Linked DNA regions of Homo sapiens: region 2 is linked to region 1. The links come from fine-mapping of genetic effects on gene expression. A gene starts in region 1. The other region holds a variant in brackets. All regions are shown on one strand. Distances are from middle to middle.

The links.
Region 2: its variant is fine-mapped to the expression of RNF114 in Th1/17 cells (Schmiedel 2018, PIP 0.91).

Annotation. Positions count from the first base shown.
Region 1 is chr20:49,934,065-49,939,437 of GRCh38, forward strand. RNF114 (ring finger protein 114) reads left to right here and starts at 2,333. Exons shown (of 6, transcript NM_018683.4): 1 at 2,333-2,488. The coding sequence starts at 2,349. RefSeq lists silencers at 1-95, 1,534-1,613, 2,180-2,369, 2,828-3,122, 3,408-3,702 and 1 more and an enhancer at 1,982-2,587.
Region 2 is chr20:49,879,901-49,885,273 of GRCh38, forward strand. SLC9A8 (solute carrier family 9 member A8) reads left to right here. Exons shown (of 16, transcript NM_015266.3): 13 at 1,024-1,135; 14 at 3,946-4,166. Among named protein-coding and RNA genes, the nearest start is that of MIR12122, 19 kb to the left of the region's middle. The variant T/C (reference allele first, on the strand shown) is at 2,282.

The DNA.
Region 1 (5,373 bases):
ACATGGGATATCCTCCAGGATGGACCATATGTTAGGCCACAGATTAAGCCTCAAGAGATTTTAAAAGGTAGACATCAGCCAGCTGTGGTGGCTTAGGCCTGTAATCCCAGCACTTTGGGAGGCTGAGGCAGGAGGATTGCTCGTGCCCAGGAGTTTGCAACCAGCCTGGGCAACACAGCCAGACTTCATCTCTACAAAAAGAGACAGAAGAAAAGGAGAAAGAGAGAAAGATAAGAAGGAAAGAAAGAAGAAATAAAAGAGATCATACCAAATATCTTCTCCAAGCACAATTGGATAAGGCTAGAAATCAATATGGGGGGGTTAAAAAAAAAAAGAAATCAATATCAAAGGAAAACTGGAAAATTCACAAATTTGTGGAAATTTACACACTCTTAAAAGAACCAATGGATCAAAGAAGAAATCACAAGGGAAATTAGAAAATACTCAGAAACAGGCCAGGCTGGGTGGCTCACACCTGTAATCCCAGCATTTTGGGAGGCCGAGGTTGGCGGATCACTTGAGGTCAGGCGTTTGAGACCAGCCTGGCCAACATTGTGAAACCCTGTCTCTACTAAAAATACAAAAATTAGCCAGGCGTGGTGGCAGGCACCTGTAATCCCAGCTACTTGGGAGGCTGAGGCAAGGGAATTGCTTGAATCCAGGAGAGGGAGGCTGCAGCGAGCAGAGATTGCACCAATGCACTCCAGCCTGGGCGACAGAGTGAGACTCCATCTCAAAATAAATAAATTAATTAAATAAATAGAGAAAATATTGAGAAACAAATGAAAACAAAAACACAGCATGCCAAAATTTACTGGACACAGTGAAAGCAGTGCTCAGGGGAAATTTTATAGCTATAAGTGCTTCAAAATCATAGACAGAAAATTGCCAGGGCCTGGGGGTATGGGGATGGGAGGAGGGAAGAGGAAGTTATTGTTTAATGGGGACAGAATTTCAGTTTCAGTTTAGCAAGAAGACCAGAATTTTAGAGATAGCTGATGGTGATGATTGCACAATATGAAATGAATGTACTTTGTTGTTGGGGTTTTTTTGTTTTGTTTTGTTGTTGTTGTTGTTGTTTTTTGAGAGGGAGTCTCGCGCTGTCGCCCAGACTGGAGTGCAGTGGCAAGATCTTGGCTCACTGCAAGCTCCGCCTCCCAGGTTCAAGCCATTCTCCTGCCTCAGCCTCCCGAGTAGCTGGGACTACAGGCGCCCGCCACCACGCCCGGCTAATTTTTTGTATTTTTAGTAGAGACAGGGTTTCACCGTGTTAGCCAGGTTGTGTTTTTGTTTTTTTTTTTTTTTTTCAGACGGAGTTTCGTTCTTGTTGCCCAGGCTGGAGTTTAGTGACTGTTGGAGTGAGTGAGCCATCTTGGCCCACGGCAACCTTCGCCTCCCAGGTCAAAGGCTTTTCCTGCCTCAGCGTCCTGAGTAGCTGAGGCTACAGGCATGGGCAACCACGCCTGGCTAATTTTAGTATTGTTAGTAGAGACGGGGTTTCACCATGTTGGCCAGGCTGCTCTAGTACTCCTAGGCTCAAGCGATCCGCCCACCTCGGCCTCCCAAAGTGCTGAGATTACAGAAGTAAGCCACCTTGCCCAGCTCCTTTGTATAAATAAATGATATTGATTTTCTTCTTGCAGCTCAGGAATTAGATCTGTTATTAGAATTTGCTTAAATTTAAGAAATGGCTGGGTACTGTGGCTCACCGCTGTAATCCCAGCACTTCGGGTTGCCGAGGCAGGCGGATTGCTTGCGTCCAAGAGTTCGAGGCCAGCCTCGGCAACACAGTGAGACCCGCCCGCTCTCTGCACCACTCCTTCCCCCCCTCCTTTCCCCGTCTCTACAAAAAATACAAAAATAAATAAATTAGTCCGGCATGGTGGTGACTGCCTGTGGTCCAGCTACGCAGGAGGCTGAGGTGGGAGGATCGCTTGAACCCCGGTGGTCGAGGCTGCAGGGAGCCATGATCGCGCGCGCCACTGAACACCAGCCTGGGCGACAAAGCAAGACCTTGTCCCAAAATAGATTAAATAAATAAATAAATAAATTTAAGGAAAAAGCAACTTGATTCGAAGATAAATAGTGATAGTGCAAGTGGTGCCGAACTAACGATAAATTTGGAAAACAGCGGCCCACGCGCAGAGCCCGTCCCAATTCTGGCAGCCTTTGGATTTGGCTTCCACGTTTTCCAGATTTCCCTCGGCCTCTAGCTCGCTTGCGTCAGAGGGGCCCCGAGGGGCGGCCCACCCGCTAGCCCCGCCCCCAACCGCTCACCGCCCCGCGAGCCCCGCCCCCTCGGCCTCCTCCTCATCGGCCGCCGTTGCGCGGCGCAGAGCGGCAGCAAGATGGCGGCGCAACAGCGGGACTGCGGGGGTGCTGCGCAGCTGGCGGGGCCGGCGGCGGAGGCTGACCCCCTAGGACGCTTCACGTGTCCCGTGTGCTTAGAGGTGTACGAGAAGCCGGTACAGGTGCCCTGCGGACACGTGTAAGCGGCGAGCCCGGGCCTGGTCGGGGGGCGCTTAACTGGGAAGGGAATGGAGCCGAGGAGCGAGATGGGTCTCAGGGCGGGAGCCAGAGGACCCACCCAGAGGGGCCTCCCGGGGGTGTCCCCCGGGGCTCCTAAGGGCCGTGAAAGCTGCCGGGGCGCTCTTCTGTCCCGCCCCGCTCACTCCTAAGTATCCCGTTCCTCCGCCCGTCTTAGCGGGGCAGCTGCTGTCTGTTGAGCGCCTGCGATGTTCCAGGCGGCCTGTCAGTCTCCTTCCCACACGTGATAGTGGACTCGTGCCCTGCGGGGACTTTAGGCTCCGAAGTCCGCCCTTGGAGAGCCGACGTTTCCTTTCTAGTCCACGTCGCTCTTAAAGCATAGGACATTTGGCGTCGTGTCTAGCTGTGGCGAGTTATTCTACTGTGCACTAAAGTCGGGAGAAACGCTGAACTAGACTAAAACAACAAAAGGGAAGTCTTTATGGGGATCTGGCCAGTTTGCCCTTAGCTGTGAAAGGGGGGTGGGAGTTGGCAGATGGGATTGTTAGCATTCTACTTCCTGTGTAGGAGGTTTGTTTCTTTCAGTTTTCAATTAAGCCTTCATGACCTGAATATTGTGAATAGAGTGGTTATAATGATTAAAGCAGATATGTGTATAAATGTCCAGTCCAGGTCCTGGGCTGTGGCCGGGGCTTTCGAGGTTGGTCAGGTTGGTCGATTTGAATCTAAGCCTTGTTCCATCAGACGCACAAACACATCTGAGTTGAAAGAATTGTAGACAACGTGGCCACCTGCTTCTTGCCTCAGAATTGGCTTTTCCTCTGGCCCCTCTCAGTGCTTATCGTGGGATCACCTTGGCATTGGTCTTGGCAGCGGGCACAGTAGCCATTGCACTCCATGGGCATTATTCTATAGCCACCCTGCAGCGGGGGAGGGTTGGCAGCCATTTTACAGGTGAATACACTGAGGGTCCGAGGCTCTCTTAGGGAAGGGTCACCGTGGCCTAGCTCTTCCCAGATGTACTGCAGGTGACCATTTCAGTAGTCCAGAGAACAGTGCTTGGCACCTAGCTGGCTGCTTTTTGCTTCATCATGTTGCTTTAGGCTATTCATCTTTGCAATTCGGTTAGCCTGGAACTCTTCCCCCCACCCCTCCCTTTTCAGGCTTCAAGTCCCAGGTTAAGTTACCTCACCAAATACCATCCCCATCTAAATTACTTCCCCCACTTCCTTTCTGGGACTTAACTTCCTTCTCCTTGCTTGCACAGAGCAAAACTTAACAGCTCATGACGGAGTGGCCATATCTTTATTGCCCCTGAACTGACTGGAATGGCCTCTGTGTGCCAGATTTTGGGGTAGACTCTGCCTTCAGAGTTTACAGTCCAGTGAATTGATTATAAATAAGTACCAATGACTGGTCAAACTATTGTAAAAATTCATTCTGCAAGTGGGAGGGTATTTCAGGGATCACACCTCTGTGCGTGGGGTGAGTGATCAGGTAATGGTTGAATGAACTAATAAGTCGTGTAAGCAAGCTTCACGAGAGTTGAAGTGGTCTTTAGCTTTTTCATTGAATCCACTTATCCTTGGATCAGATTTACCTGATTTTGGATTAATTCAGTGGATTTCATTTACTATTAACATTTGTAAAAAGGCTAGACCCAGCACAGTTTGCTAAATGAAGAGCAGCAAAATTTGAGATTTTCTTGAGCTTGGTGAACCTTTCCTAGGTCAGAGGGCAAGGAACAGTACTGGTTTTCAAACCTTGGCTCTTCTCTATCCTCGCTGTCCTAGCCCCACGTGATCAGCAGTTCAGTGCAAATTGAAGACAGATGGAAGCACCTCTGTGAGGGCAGCCCAAATCCCCGCTAGCTCCAACCGACTGCTTTCTCCTGTGCCTAGTTGATTTTTACCTTTTGTGCTTGGAAAGTTGAGCATCACTGCAACTCTGGCTGGGGCATTGGATTTTTATAAAACTTTATTTCAAGCCCTGAATGACTGTGTTCTCCAATCTGGTAGAATACAGCTGGAGAAAGGCAGCTGGCTGGGTGCCCAAGAGAAGGGAATTTCTTCCTAGCACTGTGACGGAGTGGAGCATCGGAAGGCTGAACTAGAAAAGGGCGCATAAGTAGGAAATAGAAACTGAAAAGCCATCCCAGGATATTTGAGTTGTTCAAAAGCAGGCTGGTAGTTTGGGCATGTCTCAGGCACAAAGTGACTCGTGAACATTTGATAGATGAGCTGTACCTGTGTGTGTGCTTGAGAAGAGACTTCGAGCTGCTTTTATCTGCATGCTGGGTTTGGTTCCATTATACTCACTGGACCCTCTGTGCTCTCTTGGGTTCCTCTTGTCATCTGCCTTTGTGAACAGGCAACACAAGTGATGGCCACAGGCCCTGCCTGTCTCTACTGCCTCATCACTTGCCCTTCTCACCATGGTCTACCGCATCATGGCCCCCAAGGTCTGCCTGCCTTCCTTTCCAGTCCTCATTTGTGTGTGGCGTGATCTTGGTGTGGAGCTCTGCACCCAGATCTGTGTGGCTGTCCTCGTAATCAGGTCCCACCCAGCTCAAATGCCAACTCCTCAGAAGCAGCTTTCTATGATCACCCCAGCTGGTCTGTTTGCCATATTTCCTTCATATTTTTAATCACTATCTGAAATTAACATTTGTGTTTCCCTTCACTCTAGAATGTAAGCATCATGAGAACAGGGCTTTGTCAAGTTTCCATTGCCCTCAGTGGTGAATGAATAGACTCCCTCACCTTCTCTGTACCTGGTCTGGAATTTTGCCTAACAGCATTAACATCTAACTTAATGACAAGGAGGAAGGAGATTCTTAGAGGCAGTAGAAAATGGTCAAGTGTTCAGAAGATGGCCTTTCATTAT
Region 2 (5,373 bases), 54 kb before region 1:
GGTGAGAACCAAGATGAAGAAAATGAAAGTAAAGTAATAAATGTCCTAAGAATCCACTTAGATAAGATTTAAACTTTAGGCTGGGTGCAGTGGCTCACACCTGTAATCCTAGCACTTTGGGAGGCAAAGGCAGGAGGATTGCTTGAGACCAGGAGTTTGAGACCAGCCTGGGCAACATAGCAAGACCTCATCTTTAACTAAAAAATTTTAAAAAGTAGCCAGGCATGGTGGTGCATACCTGTAGTTCTAGCTACTTGGGAGGTTAAGGTGGGAGGATCACTGGAGCCCAGGAGGTTGAGGTTGCATTGAGCCACAATCACACCACTGCACTCCAGCATGCGAGACAGAGTGAGACTTTGTCTCAAAAAAAAAAAAAAAAGATGTAAACTTTACATAAAGCTGTACTTTGCCAAGACTAACATGCCTTTGGAGATGGAGAGGAACCAAAAGCCACAGCAAGCAGCTGGCAGGCTAAGCCGGGGCATGTGGCCTCCTGATAGTCCCTACCTCTGCGTTCCTCTTGCTCAGAGAGCAGTGTTTCCATGCATGGGAGGTCCTTCATAGCTGCCCTCCTTTCCCTGAGGGAGAGGCAGAAACACCTTGTCTGTCCCCCTAGTCCTGGTATGATCAATGCAGCCCTGTCCCAAGGAGGGGCACCTTGGGAGTCAGGTTGCCCTTAAACTAATCTGTGAATACTTCTGTACAGCCTCTTGGCATTCAGTTTTGTTCTGCTGTCATTACTAAAGCCCTTCCTGATACCTCGTCCGTCCTCTCTTTTCTGGCTACTAAGAAAGGTAACGTACAAAGCTTTATCCTTTCCTAGATGCATAGAATCCCGCAGCTGTGGCAGCACGCCCATGCTGGGTCTCTGACGAGCATGGTGTTGCTCGTGTCTTTTGTGGCTGAGGGGAATACTGCATTTGTACTGGATGTGTTACACAGTCTGCATTAGCTTCATCCAAGAAGCTTCAGCTTGAAGAGCCAGATGTTTTCACCTAAGACTTAGTTTGTTGCTATCAACAGGTGCTTGTACTATTTGGCAGAGCGGTAAACATTTTCCCTCTTTCCTACCTCCTGAATTTCTTCCGGGATCATAAAATCACACCGAAGATGATGTTCATCATGTGGTTTAGTGGTAAGTCAAATCTTGGATAAATGGGGTGGGGAAGTACCTGTTAAAAGCACGCCCCATACAGGGAGAGCTGTGGTTCTCTGCTAGCGCCCTTGGCAAAACCACAAGTAATCAATACTCCCGTTTAATGGCACCCACTGCAATCAAGATGGTGCCCCTCACCATGGTGCTATGAAGTGGGTGAGGCTTGGTTGGAAGAGGGCAAACAACATGCCCAGGGTCACGTGACCACTGGAGGCAGAGCCGGGATTTCTGCCACTCTCTTCTGAACACCATAGTGCAGTCCGGGATGCAGCTGGGCGTGCTTCAGCGCCTCCCTGGGGGTCTTCTAGGCTGAAGTAATAATGGTCTCAAGGTAGAAAAGGTGAAAGTTGAAACTGTTTCATACCTTATGTTAGTTTTGGATATTTTTCCTTTTAGTCACAAAGTTCTAGTAGTTTAATTTGAATGTTTCAGTTGCTATTTAATCACTTTTTAAAGGACGGAAATGATTTCATACATCTTTGCTTCTAAAGAACTGGATCCATAGGCATCCTTAAATTTATTTTTGAGCAATACATACTGTTCTTTATGCTTTCTTGCTTAAATATTATAATCAAAGTATTTTCCGTGTGGGTTGGGTTATAGCAACACACTATAATGTTCTCTATCCAAAGGCATATCTGCAAGTTTGTCTCAGATTTCTCTTCTTTCAAAAGGCCATGTTTAAAAATGTATATGTTTCATATATATGTACGTATGTGTATATATACATATACATTTATATGTGGTGAGAAAAACTCATTTTTTTCCTAATCTCTTTTGCCAGTGAGGCAAACTACTTTGTAAATGGTTGCAGAAGTGTGTCAGAGGTTTTTGAAGTGATGTGGGCTATTTGGGAAGGGGGGCATGAGGATAAGAGAGCGTTATGGGGAAGGTTGGAGTGTATTTGAAATGGCGGGGGCTGTCGGCTCCTGTTCTCTCCCAGGCTCCCCGGGCTCTTGCTCTGTGGGTTTCCATCCAGGCTTTCCTGGATCCTCAACGAGGGGCACTGAACAAGCCTCTGCTACCGGCCCCTCCCATCATCATTTAAGCAATCAGAGCTTCTCCTCCTTCCCACAAAACACCAGCAACTTCAGCCAGAGTTCCTCCTCATGTCCCCCGCAGCTG[T/C]GTCCGCACCTCTTTTGCCATGGCCAGACCCTTGCGAGTGAGCCGTGCTCGCTCATTTTCTCCACTTCTTCACCGCCTGTCCACGGGGCTGGAATTGGCCTTGGCAGGTCACCAGTGACCTCCCGCAGCCAGACCTGGAGGGGAGGCGTCCGCCCCCGTCCTAGCCTACCTCCTTCCCACTGCCCCTACCTTCTGGCGAGGACCACTTCACTCTCTTCCCCGGCCTCTGGGCCATGCTCCTCCTTTCTCTCCTTTGACGTCTCCTTGGGCTCGTCCCCCTTCGCTGACCCCTCAAATAGTGGCTTCTTCAGGACTTGGCCCCAGCCCCACTTCTGTTCACGTGTTCTGCACTTCACTGAGTGCGCTCACCCGTCCACTGGCCTTCACTTCCACCTAGTCCCAAAGCTGTTCCCGCGAACCCAGACCTCCCTCTGGGATCCGTACTCCTGTTTCCAGCTGCCTGTTTGGATGCCGTGGGGATGCTGTCATCCCTATGCCTTTGCATCCCCCTTGCCCAAGAAATCCTACTTTGAATTGCCCGGTGGCCTGGCTAGCCGGTACTAAGCACTTGCTGGGTACACACCCTGTTAAAGCACATTACATGTCCCGTGTCACTGAATCCTCTGGCCCGTGACAGGTTTAGAGAGGCTGAGAGTCCCTTGTCCTCACCATGTCTCTGTATTATGTGCCCTTTGCTCTTGCCCTGCCGTCTCCCCATCTGGGTCTGGCCTGCAGCAGCCTGGCTGCCCTACCCCATGGTGATGTGAGCCTCCCCGCTTTCCTGTCTGGGGAAGGTCCTGGTGCTGTCTGCACCATGCCCCCCCCCACCCCCCACCCCCCTCCCCCCACCATCTCTTCCAGGTAGCATTTCACACCCCTTATTTGCTGTGCCTCCTCCCAGCTGCTCTAGGAGCTCCCCAAGGGTGGGGCTAGGACTGCCTGTCCCCTCCGTATGGCACCAAGGAAGCCAGGAAACTTCTAACAGAGGAATGTGCTGTTTTCCAGCTCAGTCCATGCCCCTCAGTTGTGCCCTAGTAGCGTCACAGAGGACCAGCCAGCCTGTCATTACCACCTAAGCAGCCCACAGCCCCATCAGTGCCACCAGGGGCCTCCACAGGGACAGCATCTCGAGATAGGAGGGGTACTGGACACATTGCATCTTGTGCTGTTGTGGGTATTAGTTGAGTGGCCCTGGGCGGGCCATGCTGCTCTTGGCCTCCATCCCTCATCTGTGTGTTGTGGACAAGAGTAGCGCTGCTCGGTGAGGATTCCTGTGAAGATCCAGTGATGCTCTGCACACTGAGCACCTGCCCAGGCCTGGCGCACACACAGGGAGGGCTCAGCCCACAGCAGCTGTCCTGCAGTTTCCAAGACACGAGCATCAGGCTTGCTAAGTCCTCCCGCACCCGCATCTGGGGCTCTGTAGCTGGGGCAGGCCATCTCATTTGATCTGCCAATGTTGGAATGGAGGTGAGTCTGTGGTCCCATCTCTGCCACCTGCTCTTTACACCCCAAAGCCTCACAGGGTGAGCACACACTCTTCAGCAGGGCCATTAGAATAGTCAGCTGGTCGTGGTGCTGGGCCGGCTGGATTTCCAGGGAAGCCAGCCCATGAAGCTGCTGCCTCTTCACTGTGTCCTCTCACACTGTTTGCTGTCACCCAGGCCTGCGGGGAGCCATCCCCTATGCCCTGAGCCTACACCTGGACCTGGAGCCCATGGAGAAGCGGCAGCTCATCGGCACCACCACCATCGTCATCGTGCTCTTCACCATCCTGCTGCTGGGCGGCAGCACCATGCCCCTCATTCGCCTCATGGACATCGAGGACGCCAAGGCACACCGCAGGAACAAGAAGGACGTCAACCTCAGCAAGACTGAGAAGATGGTTAGTACCATGCGCCTGTGGGGGTGGGGCAGGGGGCTGGCCTGCTACGCAGCTGGTGGTCCCCACTGTCAGGAAATGGGGAGATGAGCCTTGCTTTCTTGCTTTGAGGATGCCCAGCACCTCCACACACACGACACACACACACACACACACACACACACACACACACACACACGACACACACACACACACGACACACACACACACGACACACACACACACGACACACACACACACACACACACACACACACACACACACACACACACACCCCCCGGTCATCCCCCCTGAGAAGGAGGTGACGGAACTTGAGTTCTGAAGCATGGCTCTTGGGGTGGGGGTGTCTGGTGGCCTTGTGACCTGCCGCAGCCATGGGGGCTGTGGACGACCCCATCTGCTCCCTCTCTGAAGCTCCATGGGGCACCACAGGAGTCTGGACCTGTGCCACAACCACAGCAGTGCCTCTGCCCTGCCAGCAGCTGAGACACCTGTCAGGGCCCAGGTTTGAGGGTTTCAAAATCCTGTCATTCCCCAGTATGGTTTTACTAAAAACCACCTGTTGGGGGCCTGAGGAGGGGAGGATGTCTTGCGGTGGCTGTGAGGGCCGTGAGAGGGGTACTCCCCCAAGGACAGACATGGTGTGGGGCTGGAGGTACCCAGGCCCCAGCTGTAGGGAGAGCTGAGGTTCTGCAGCCTGCCCACCTCTTCTTCCTACAAGCCACCGCCCCTGCCACCAGGCTGCCTTCCCGCCCTGTCTTCACCCTCAGGACCCCTGTGCAAAGCTAGGCCCTCTGACCGAAGCAGAGGCTGCTGTAGGCTCCAGCCCAGAGCATCCCCTGCTGATCACCATGCATTTCTGGACATGCATCTCTTTCTAGTTCCCGTATTCTAGGCCTCAGTAACTTTAATCAGTCATCAGAGGCCCAGGAGTCCTCACGTGGCCATCCACGGCTAACACTGGAGTCAGGGCTGGCAAGACCATGGCCTCCAATCTCCATGCTCAGCTGGGCCCCTCACCCAGTGCAGTGCTGCTGGGAGGAAACTTCCAGATGGCTGTGAGGCCTGGCTCTGCAGAACTTCCACCACACTAAGAGGCCCTTTGCCCCCACCCCCTATCTACCAACTTTTTTGTTTTTCACAAAAGCTCTAGCTTAGGCCTTTCTGGGTATCAGAATCGGTGGGGGGCTTGCTACACACAGGCTGCTGG